2 linked regions of the Homo sapiens genome follow. The protein of the gene in region 1 interacts with the protein of each later gene in a pairwise test. Each region holds a gene or a part of one and is shown in the gene's direction. Other genes may lie near its edges.

Region 1 (7,033 bases):
CTTGACGCTCCTGCTGCTTCCTCTGCCGTCTGTGTGACCTGGTTCAGGATCCCTGAGCCTGGGCTTCCCTGGCTCATCTGATTCGGGCTGTCAGTGCCTCATGTGAGCTTCTGCTCTGCTGCTCATCACCTCACTTTCTCAGTTTTCCAGTTCCTAGGGGATCACAAGGATGATTCCAATTCATCTTTCAAACTGTTCTTCAGAAGGCATGGGTCAGAGGTCACCGTGCATTGGCTCTGTGTCAGGTATCTGCTCCCATTTACTGATGTTTTAGGTTTGTAGGAGTAGAGTCATGTGATATGGAACATGGCCACTACCTTTTTAGGAGGTAAATGGACAGAAAACGTTCCCATGAGAGATGGTATGAGAACTTCGTAGAACTTTCTGTATCAGTAGTCTACTTTGCCCAAACATGACTACTGCACTCTAAGCTATCATTTAAAGAGATGTTCCAACCTCAGTGGCACATCAGAAACAGTGTACAGCCATCCAGTTGTCCCTCAGCATCCACATATAATTGTTTCCCGGACCCATCCCCCTGAGGATATGAAAATCTGTGAACACTCAAGTCCCTGATATAAAATGGCATAGTATTTGCATATAACTTATGCACATCCTCCTGTATACTTTAAATCATCTCTAAATTACTTCTAATATTTACTACAATGCAAGTACTAGGTAAATTGTTGCTATACTGTATTGTTTTACAATTTGTATGATTTTTATTGTTGTATTGACATTTTTTGTTGTGTTTTTCCTAAATATTTTTGATCCATGGTTGGTTGAATCCACAGATGCAAAACCCAGATAGAGAGGGCTGACCATACAAGCTAAGGGAAAGAATACATGTTCCTATTGCTGAACACAAGACCCCCTGCTGTGCAGTGATAATGCAATCTTGATAATAATAGCAATAAAAGCCACCACACATGGTGGCTCATGCCTATAATCCCTGCACTTTGGGTGAAGGTGGCAGGAGGATTGTTTGAACCCAGGAGCTTGAGGCTGCAGTGAGCTGTGATTACATGACTGCACTCCAGCCTGTATGACAGAGCAAGACTCTGTCTCAAAGAGAAAAAGAAAAAAAGAAATGCCTTTTATTGGTTTCTTATTATATGCCACACACTTCACATACATTGTAAGTCATTCTTCTAATAGTTCTAAAGGATGGACACAAACATCTCTATTTTACAGAAAAAGAGACTTCTAGGAGTTTCAGTAACTGGTCCAAAGTTACCTTGCAAGAAAGTGGTAAATACTCAGGTCACTCGGACTCCAACACCTATGTTTTTCTACTGTATTATGCTGATTTTTTAAATTTTAACAAATATCATTTAAAGAAACTAAGACAAGAAATAGATTCTACTTTATTTACATGGATATTAATCATTTCTGCTGCTCTTCCTCTGTTTCTGAAGTTTAACGTGCACTCCGGTGTCATTTCTCTTTAGCCCAAAGAACTTCCTTTAGCATTTCCTGTAGAACAGGTCTGTTGATAACACATTCTACTCTTTCCTTCTTCACAAATGGCTTCACCCTACCCTTCTTTCTATATTTTCACCACGTGCAGAATTTTAGTTGAAGGTCTTTTCTTTCAGCAGCTTAAAAATGTTTTCCCACTGTCTTTTGGCTTCCATCATTCTTGATGAGAAAGTTAGAGCCTTGGGATTATTTCCCCATATGTTTTATGTAATGATTTTTTCCTCTGGCTGCTTTCAAGACTTTTTTTTTGTTTAGAGTTTTTGGTAATTTTATTATTATGTGTCTTGACTAATTTATAGGAGTTTATTCGCTTTGGAGTTTGCTGAGTATCCTGTATCTGTAAATTTGTGTTTCATCACATTTGGAAAGTTTTCAGGCATTACTTTTATGAATATTTTTTCTTCACCAATATCTACGGCCTCTGCTTTAGGACTCCAATGACACAAATGTGAGAACTTCTGATATTGTTCCACAAGCCTTTGAAACTTCATTTATTTTGTTTTCAATCTTTTTTCTTTCTGTTTCTCATATTGAATAATTTTTATTGCTTTATTTTCAAGTTCACTTACTCTGTCCTCTCTCATCCCTGTTTTATTATTGAGTCCATTGCATGGGTTTAATTTCAGATATTGTGTTTTCTAATTCTAAAATTTATTTTTGTAATTTATAGACCTTATAATTTCTTTATATTTATTTCAAGAGTATTCACCCCAGTCTATAGAAAATGGTTCTAATAACTACTTTCAAGTCTGTCTGATAATTCATATATCTAAATCATCTTTGGTTTGGCTGTCTCTTTGATAATTGATCAGATTTTCATTATTGTTGGTATATCAAGTAATTTCAGGTTGTATCCTGGACACCTTGAATTTTATGTTGTCAAAATTCAAAGTGTTAAATTCAGTGGAGAATTCACTGTTAAAATTCTCTGGATAATGTTGATTTTTAAAAAATTTGATTATTATTATTTTTTCGGCAGGCAATCAACCAACCCAATCTGTCCCTTTCTTCTGTGGTGGCAGTTTCAATTTTAATTCATTTTTCAAAGTCTATGTGATGCTGTTTGTGCTGTGCACCCTGGGGCGCACACCACTCAGGGCTTGCTCTGGAACCTGGACGGTCTTCAAACTGTAATTTGGTTCTTAAAGACTTTGCTATGCTTCTTGGTCTGTTTCCTGTGCATGTGCAACTTGGGGGTGTGCTTGGTATTTGTGTAGGTTCAAACGTGGAATTTTAGAGTCTTTTCTTTAGCTCTTTTCTCTGTGGGATTTTCTTTACACCCTCTGGCTCCTCGGACTCTTTTTCCCAGTTTCTCTGGCCAGAAAGGTTGAATTCTGAGTTCTGGCCTCCTGCGCTGTGGCACAGTTCCATGCAGCCATGACACATAGCAAGCAGCAAGAGAAAGGAGAAAAAACATAACCATGATTCCTCCCTCCTCTTTGCACAATGAGGGTTCCTTTTTGTGATTCCTCTATCTAGAGGGTTGGGTCATCATTTGGGATTTTAAGTGCCCACGCCTCCACTGGGGCAGCAGTGCAGACCTGTATTTAAAGCTGATCTGGAGGCAGGACTAAGGGAATAAAAAGAGGAAAAAATAAACATGGGGATTTACTCTGGCTTTAGGGGGCTATTTTCCTAGATTTCTAGGAAATGAATTCAACTAAAGATTTTTGCTATTCGCACCTTTTACACAGTTCCCCATTCGCTTGCCTTCAGGCCAAATCCATGAGGAAAAAAGAAGAAAATCAGATAACTTTGCAACTTGATCTCTGTTAAGACTTGACTTTCCTTCTCACTCCACTTGCTATTATTTACTTTCAGTCCTTATATGGTTGCTTGTCATACTTACCTAGTTTTAGTTGTGATCAGTACAGTCGTAGAATGGATTTCTTATTCTCTGAGCTGCTTCTTGTTGTTAATGATTATACCCCTAGCACTTGGCACAGAAGCTGTCCTGTGAAAGATAACCTCAACCTATTTCTAAATGAAATAAATGAAAATGTAAAATGTGAGACTCACCAATTGCCTAATAAACTATGGTAGGACAAGGACAGCAAATATTTGGCCACACTCTGCAACTCGTAATTTCCATACTCAAAGCTGACATTAGTATCTCTTCACTGCCCTGTTCCCTGCTGAGCCTGAATACAACTGCAGAATATTGTCTAACACAGCAGCCCTGGAAACCATGCCAAGTGGCCAGCACTGGTATGGGAAGTGAAAGCCTATCATGTATTCCTGTTTTCAGGACTTGGTTATTCACATAAAAATCCGAGCCTTCCTTTTCCATTTAACTGAAGTGACTCCTCTTCTCAAATTTCCATCCTCCCATCCTCTTTCCTGTAAAACTCCAGTTGATTGATAGATTTCTTCTTTGCCAGGAAGGCTTCTTGAGAAAAAAAAATATTCTTTTCCTTCTTATCAAGTTGTATATTTTCTTAAAATATAACTTGACTAATATGTTTCACTGAGCGTTCCCCCATCTATACTATCAAGAATTTATTTTAGCTTTTTATCCTTTTGGAAATGATGAAATTGGTTAAGATTGGTAATTATCCAACTCAAAAATGATCGTTAGAATTCCTTTTTGTTTGATTACCATATATCACCAAACCTACTATTTCTTACCAGCTGTTTCCATTAATTTAGCCTTGCTTGTCCTTGACTCCTATAGACTCCTATACTTCTCATTTTGAATCTAAGTGAAAATATTAATAGAAAGAGGTAAGCCTTAAATACATCTGATTTAAATTATCAGATTTGCTTGGAAAGCATAGCTAAACGAACTTCTTTTATGGTTTTGCTTGTCATTTTTTATTGCCTTAGACTGTTTTCTATAGAGCCAACAATCTAAATAGAAGTGGATATTTTTGTTGTGGTTAGGGGCTTGGGGTGACTATTATCAGCTCTCAGAGATAATCATGGTACAAATATATCTTAGAAGAAGATGTGAGGTAGTGTTTGTAAATAATGTGAATGCATTTACATGTGTTTGGACATTCGGTATGAAACACTTCTAGGCTACCCAACTGGGTACTTAAATGGGAGAACTCTTTAGAAGCAAGAACCTTAGGTCTTCTTGCTTCTAAAATGGAAAATCGTGATGGAAAAAAGAGCTCCCACAGTATATTAAGCATGTGTGTGGTACAAACATTGAGCAAGAGGAGTTGATTGAAGGTCACCAGCTTGGACATCACTGATTCCAAGGTCATCTGATAAGATCTCCTGTTTGTTCAGACCCATCCCTGGCATTCTATCTAGCAGTGCCATAGCTGAAATTAGAAAAATGAAGATGAAAGCAACTGACTGTGACAATCTGCTGTGTACACAATCTAAGTGTATTTTTCTTTCTTTTCTCTTTTCCTCCTGGGGTCTCCAGTTTACCGTGGTTTCTGGGCAGTCCTGATGCTCCTGGGGGTAGTTGCTGTAGTCATCGCAAGCTTTTTGATCATCTGTGCAGCCCCCTTCGCCAGCCATTTTCTCTACAAAGCTGGGGGAGGCTCATATATTGCTGCAGGTACGTACGGTGCAATGGGTATGACTTTCAGCCACGGTTTTTCTTCATGTCTTTCTATTTTTCATTTCTATATTCAGGCGTCAGCCTTCTAGTAACAGTAACACAATAATATTTGTATACAATACTTCTTGAACACTAACTAATAATATTTGTATACAATACTTCTTGAACACTAACTGTGTGTCGGACACTTTTCAGGGACTTTCCCTTTTCCACATGCTGACACATTTAACCATCATGATAGTCTCTGCTCACTGTAAGGCCATTATTATAAAGAGGAGAACACTGAGGCTTAGAGGAGAAAACTCTGTCACTGACTCACTCCAAGGTGTGTAAGAGACTGTTAACCTCTTACCCTATTAATTTTCTGTCTGTAAATGGGGATCGTAACATAAGTCTCTGTAACATATCAGCATATGATATGGGTAGGCATTTTCTGAGCTCTTCAAAGATAGCCCTGTGATGATATTTATGATAAGCATACACTCATGATTTATCATAGGTACAAAAATATTTTTCTACATCACTCCCATTCATTTTCTTAATTGTTTGTTGATGCCAGGTGTGGTGGCTCACACCTGTAGTCCCAGCACTTTGGGAGGCTAAGGTGGGTGCATCACTTGAAGTCAGGAGTTTGAGAACAGCCTGGCCAACATGGTGAAACCCTGTTTCTACTAAAAATACAAAAAAATTAGCCAGGCGTGGTGGCATGTGCCTGTAATCCCAGCTACTCAGGAGGCTGAGGCAGGAGAATCACTTGAACTCGGGAGGCGGAGGTTGCATTGAGCGAGATTGTGCCACTGCACTTCAGCCTGGATGACAGAGCGAGACTTTGTCTAAAAAAAAAAAATAATTAATTAATTGTGATCCATATGAATTATCTGAATATATTATTTTCTGTGTGAAGCTTGCATTTATTTTAGTTAGGTTTCTAACTAATTTAATTTCTGCTAAAATGATCACACTACAAATAGAAAAGTAATTGAAGAGGTGAGTCTTGTGAATTTTAAGCCCTTTTCATTTAATTAGGCAGTGAAAGCCAGACTATTAACTTGGAAACATAAGCACAGGCTATTATTTGTAAAGATAATTCTAGAAAACTAGCCAAACTTCAGTATGACTGAGACCAAACTGTACATACTATGCTGTATTGTAACATCAAACCAGAGTGACAGAGTGCTCCTAGGTGACACTGTAGTGACAGTTGAAGGAAAGGAACAGAATGGAGAAGGTTACTGTCCTTCTAATCATTGGAAAGATGGCTTGTGATGCTGCCCAGTGTCATTTCATCAGTGCTCAGGTAACACAATACTTTCTGCATAAGATTGTGCTTAATTCTGCAGAGGGAATAAAAATAATAATCAGATCTAGATCCTGTATTTTGTAGGGGCCAAGAGGAACAGAAGGTTCCCTGAAAAATCCACTTGGAAAAGGCAGATTAATTGAAGAAAAGGCATACATATAATTTCATGTGTATACCTGGGAGCTTTCAGATTGAAGACCCAAAAAGATATGGGCAAATTGTCCATTTTTATGCTTAGGTTCAACAAAGGATGGGCAGCTGTGTAGAAATATGATTGGACAAAAAGGGCAGGATCTAATGGTCATAGACTAAGTGGGGAACCCAGCGAGGCCTGTCCGTTTAGCTTCTTCATGGCTTCACTGAGCAGCACGCCTTCCTTCTGGGTGTGGGGCGGGACCCTCTCTGGAATTGGCAAACAAGGTAGGTCCGGTCAATTCCTTTGTCCTTTGTGGCCAATTTTTACACAGAAAGGTGGAGGGAGAGTTAGAGTAATATGTTCAGGTTTCGTGGCTGGCTTTGGGGAAAGGAGTTCTGGTTTCTATGATTCACCTTTGTGGAGAGGGGACCTTTGTGGTTTCTAAGGCCAGCCTCGGGAGAGAACAGGACTGGGAGGCAGGAGGGCAGGAGAAGGTCAGAGAAAAACTTTTGCTCCTGAGGCTGCTGCTGGGGCTTCATTTTGGAGTTTTGTTTCCTGAGCCCCAACAGTTTAAAGAGCTAAAAAAAAAAATCTC
Region 2 (4,984 bases), on another chromosome or scaffold:
CCACTCCTCTCTTTGGATTCCCAGATTCTCCTTATCCCATTCTGTTAGCCCCTAGTACTTAATCACTTTCAAAAATATTATGTAATTTACCTATAGTATGTTTACTTTTTTCTTTGTTTTTATTGCTAGAATATAAGCTCCATGGAGGGTGGGGGACAGAAATCTTTCTTTGGTCATTGATGTTAGCCTCGCATCTAGGATATCAGTGGGTGTGTAAACAATATTCAATCAATGTTTGTTTCAATGAATTGTTGCCAAAGGAATGAAGTACGTGCTGCATATATTAATTGAAAATTCTTATTCTTTTTTAGATACAGAACAGTTTTGGAATGAACATTGCCAGTGCTACAATTGCACTAGTGGGGACTGCTTTTCTCTCACTAAATATAGCAGTTAATATCCAGTCATTAAGGAGTTGTCACTCTTCATCAGAGTCACCGGACCTATGCAATTACATGGGCTCCATATCAAATGTATGTTTCTGAAAAATATGTATAAGTATAAAATATTTCAAACAATCCAGGATGTACAGAAAAATAATATATCAGGTACCAATGTGCCATAATTTGAATCTTTTTTTTTTTTTTTTTTGAGACGGAGTCTCGCTCTGTCGCCCAGGCTGGAGTACAGTGGAGTGATCTCGGCTCACTGCAAGCTCCGCCCTCCTGGGTTCACAGCATTCTCCTGCCTCAGCCTCCCGAGTAGCTGGGACTACAGGCGGCCACCACCATGCCCAGCTAATTTTTTGTATTTTTTTAGTAGAGACGGGGTTTTACCGTGTTAACCAGGATGGTCTTGATCTCCTGACCTCGTGACCCGCCCGCCTCGGCCTCCCAAAGTGCTGGGATAAGGGGCGTGAGCCACCGCGCCCATCCCATAATTTGAATCTTGGGTCTGTCGCCTATTTGCTTTATAATGAAGGGCAAATTAGATAATCCCTTGAATTTTCTCATTTTTGAAATGAGGATAACAATAGTACCCGTCTCATAGGATTTATGTGAGTATTTAAAAAGTTAACATATGATAAGCAATTAAAACAAGGCTTAGCATATCATGATACACAATTATTATTACCACAACTACTACTATTACACTCCCCAGAGAGATTTTTTTTTAAGTTTCATTTCACCGGGCGCGGTGGCTCACGCCTGTAATCCCAGAACTTTGGGAGGCCGAGGCAGGCGGATCACGAGGTCGAGAGATCGAGACCACCCTGGCCAACATGGTGAAACCCCGTCTCTACTAAAAATACAAAAAAAAAAATTAGCCGGGCATGGTGGCAGGCGCCTGTAATCCCAGCTACTTGGGAGGCTGAGGCAGGAGAATCACTTGAACCCGGGAGGCGGAGGTTGCGGTGAGCCGAGATTGCGCCATTGCACTCCAGCCTGGGCAAAAAGAGTGAAACTGTCTCAAAAAATAAAAAAATAAAAAAATAAAGTTTCATTTCATATCTCCTTGCTTAATAAAACAAACTTGAGAGATTTACAACTTTCTCTGCAATCTGGAATGTTCAAATAATGACTTGAAGTTTTGAAGGACTGCGCTTTAGAATGAAATTAGCATGGTGTTTTCAAAGGAAAGCTCTTTAATAACCTTACCTTTTTTTTTTTTTTTTTTTGAGACGGAGTCTTGCTCTGTCACCCAGGCTGGAGTGCAGTGGCGCCATCTCGGCTCACTGCAAGCTCCGCCTCCTGGGTTCACGCCATTCTCCTGCCTCAGCCTCCCGAGTAGCTGGGACTACAGGCGCCCGCCACCACGCCCGGCTAATTGTTTTTTTTTTTTTTTTGTATTTTTAGTAGAGACGGGGTTTCACTGTGTTAGCCAGGATGGTCTCGATCTCCTGACCTCGTGATCCGCCCGCCTCTGCCTCCCAAAGTGCTGGGATTACAGGCATGAGCCACCGCGCCCAGCCAACCTTACCAATTTTTTAAAAATTTGTGTTCAGGTACTCTACCTCTTCTGAACTCTACTTAGAAATTAATATTTTCCTTTGGAATTATCCATTTCATCCCAGTGATCTATGAACTGTTAATTACAGACTCACTCCTAAGCTTCCTGTTTTCTTTTTATTATTATTATTATACTTGAAGTTCTAGGGTACACGTGCACAACGTTCAGGTTTGTTACATATGTATACATGTGTCGTGTTTGTTTGCTGCATCTATTAACATGTCATTTACATTAGGTATTTCTGTTAATGCTATCCCTCCCCCAGCCCCCCACCCCACGACAGGCCCTGGTGTGTGATGTTCCCCGCCTTGCGTCCAAGTGTTCTCATTGTTCAGTTCCCACCTATGGGTGAGACACTACTTATGGAAGTTTGTGTTCTCATTTTCTTTATTACATTTTTAATGATCTAAATTTATATTTGTCGGAGCCTGATTTTTCTGTGAATTTGGAGGTATTTTTCCTCCAGGGATATATTGTATTGGTTGCTTCTAGGTGCCTCAGTAATAATAGTAGAATCATTAGCCCAACAATTTTATTTTTTGTTTATATTAGCTCAGTGTTTTAGTTTCTAGGGATAATGTAAATGCCTAAACCCCTATGAAGTGCTAATGAAATTGTGGAAGGGCCATTTTTGTTCATTTTTCTAAACTGCCTACTCCTCTCCTTAGTTTACTACTATTCAGATTGGAAGATGTTAGTGATAATGTCAGAATTTTGTTTCTACAGCTTCTTCCCCCTGTAGCTACTTCACATGCGTTGACATAGAAATGTGACACATCTTTCTCATTAGAGAAAATGTTTTCATGCTTTTAGATTGAGATACTATCTCTTCTACAGTGTTATATGTGTCTCTGTCTTTAATTTATGGTTCACTTTGTTCCACTTTACGGGAGGGAGATGTTGTAGTCTGGTTTCCTGCTGACATTTTTTTTTTTACCTCTGGATGTTGCCACTGGGTTTGATATAAGGCATCATATCCCCTAGGGCATGGTGTCTCTACTGCTGATTCTCACCTTGCTGGAATTATGCGTAACCATCTCTACCATAGCCATGTGGTGCAATGCAAACTGCTGTAATTCAAGAGAGGTGAGATTTTTCAAATGATTAATCATTCACATGATCTCAAAGCCTCCCTGTAGGGTTTGAAGTTGTTTCTGATGCTTAGAAATAAACCTTTATGTGGTAATGATTTGTGGAGTTCCTGGAATTAGAGATTGTATGAATGTTAGAGATGGAATGAAGGGTAGAAAAGAATTTGGATGTGAACATGCAAGAGGAAATACTGTACTTGATATATAAGAGCATACTTTCTTATACAGCTGTAATTAAGTTTTATTATTTTCTTATAACTTGTAACTTTCTAATTGTATGACCTAGGAAAAATTAATAATTCTTTCTAAATTTTAGATATATTAACTGTAAAATGAAAATAATATTTTCATTCTCTTCTAATGTTTGTTGTGAGTACTGTGTATATAATCTTTATGGCATTTGGCACAGTAAACATCAATGAATGGATTTTATTGTTGATGATTATGATGATAACAGGAAGGGATGGGAGGAGAAGGAGATAATGATCCTGTTCTTGGACATTAATGTTGTTTTATTTTCTAGGAAATTTCCTCACCTCCCAATTCTGTGTAATCAAGAATACCTCCTTAATTCTGAGAGCATGAATATTTGACCTTAAATCTCCAGTGACTCAGAGCTTCACCCACAAACTCAGGAGAACATAAGCCTGCTCGTAAAGCTCAATCCTTCTATCATGGCACCAATCACAAGAACCTTGGACGTTTGACTGACTCTATCCTTTCTCTCCTAACTATAAATCCTATTTGTGTGTCGTGGGTATGGAAGGACAGATATATTTCTTTAGGCATTCTTGGATATCTGTAACTTCTATGATCATTACTCCAAAGTTGTTTCCAGAAATTGGTTCTATTTCTTCTTATCCACCTACTCCATTGCTTTATGAGGTTTAAGGAAGGAAGGCGGTATAATCCCTATTCAATATATTTTTTCTAAAATCCAACTTCTGACCGCCCAGTAGGAAGAAAAATGAGACATTTTTTCCATTACAGAGAAATGCTTCTTGACTTTAACATCAGCATTATAAAAAGTGTCAAATAAAAAATTACCATCATTATCATTAAAATAAATTTTCACTGTATTTGAGATGGGAGGGTTAAGGCTCAGGGATTTTATTTCAGTGAACTGCTGGAACTCACACATGCCCTGATATGTAAATGATGATTTATGTTGGCGAGTCTGAGAGCAAGCCCAAATGTGTTCTTCAAAGGACAATGGGAAACTGTAAAGTAGAGAACTAAAGAATAAGGCCTTTAGAATCTGACACATCTGGGTTCAAATTCTGAAACTGTCACTTATTACCTGTATGAACATGGGCAAATTATCTAATCTCTCTGATCTATTTTTCCTCATCTGTAAAATAGGTGTAATAATAACAACTACTTTGTCGGTTGCTCTGAGGGTTAAATGAAAATAAAAAGAAAATGTGAAACAGCACCACAGGTACTTGACAATGATGTTGCTGTTGTTGTTGGTCTTGCTGTTGCTGGTGAAAGCTAAGGTGGGATTGTGGTCAGATGTGCTGGAGAGATACAGTGGAAAACTTACTTACACTTCCATTGTGGCTCCTCGTATAACCTCCAACAACTCCAATAGCCATCTTTTCGAGGTGGCAATGTGGCGTGAAAACTTCCCTCAGTTCCTCGTTTATAAATCTGCTAAAGCACTTATATTTCTTATTCATAAATATCCAAGAAAAATAAAATTTATGAATAAGAAATATAAGCACTTATTGTGTCCATAAATTTATACCAATAATTTATTCTTAGTTACGTGTATATCGTATGTGCAAAGGTTCTTTTCTAACACTTGTATCCTACTTATATAATAATTATTTCTTTATTTTTTAATCCATTCTGCAGCGGGATAATTAAGGAACCAGAGAGACTGAGGGGTTGAGGAGGAATTATTTAATTATTTAGGTGCACCGACCCAGTCGGATTAA

Evidence for each region. The genes of interacting proteins can lie anywhere in the genome.
Region 2: the proteins of TMEM182 (region 1) and MS4A3 interact in binary tests that used the Homo sapiens proteins (3 or more experiments, as listed by UniProt).

The regions. Positions count from the first base shown.
Region 1 is NC_000002.12:102,793,002-102,800,034, forward strand, and holds part of TMEM182 (transmembrane protein 182 isoform a precursor), read left to right. Parts: intron 1-4,861; coding exon 4,862-4,999; intron 5,000-7,033. UniProt on the Homo sapiens protein: Negatively regulates myogenesis and skeletal muscle regeneration via its association with ITGB1. Modulates ITGB1 activation by decreasing ITGB1-LAMB1 interaction and inhibiting ITGB1-mediated intracellular signaling during myogenesis.
Region 2 is NC_000011.10:60,066,640-60,071,623, forward strand, and holds the end of MS4A3 (membrane-spanning 4-domains subfamily A member 3), read left to right. Parts: intron 1-311; coding exon 312-473; intron 474-2,934; coding exon 2,935-3,036; intron 3,037-3,564; coding exon 3,565-3,594; 3' UTR 3,595-4,476; downstream 4,477-4,984. UniProt on the Homo sapiens protein: Hematopoietic modulator for the G1-S cell cycle transition. Modulates the level of phosphorylation of cyclin-dependent kinase 2 (CDK2) through its direct binding to cyclin-dependent kinase inhibitor 3 (CDKN3/KAP).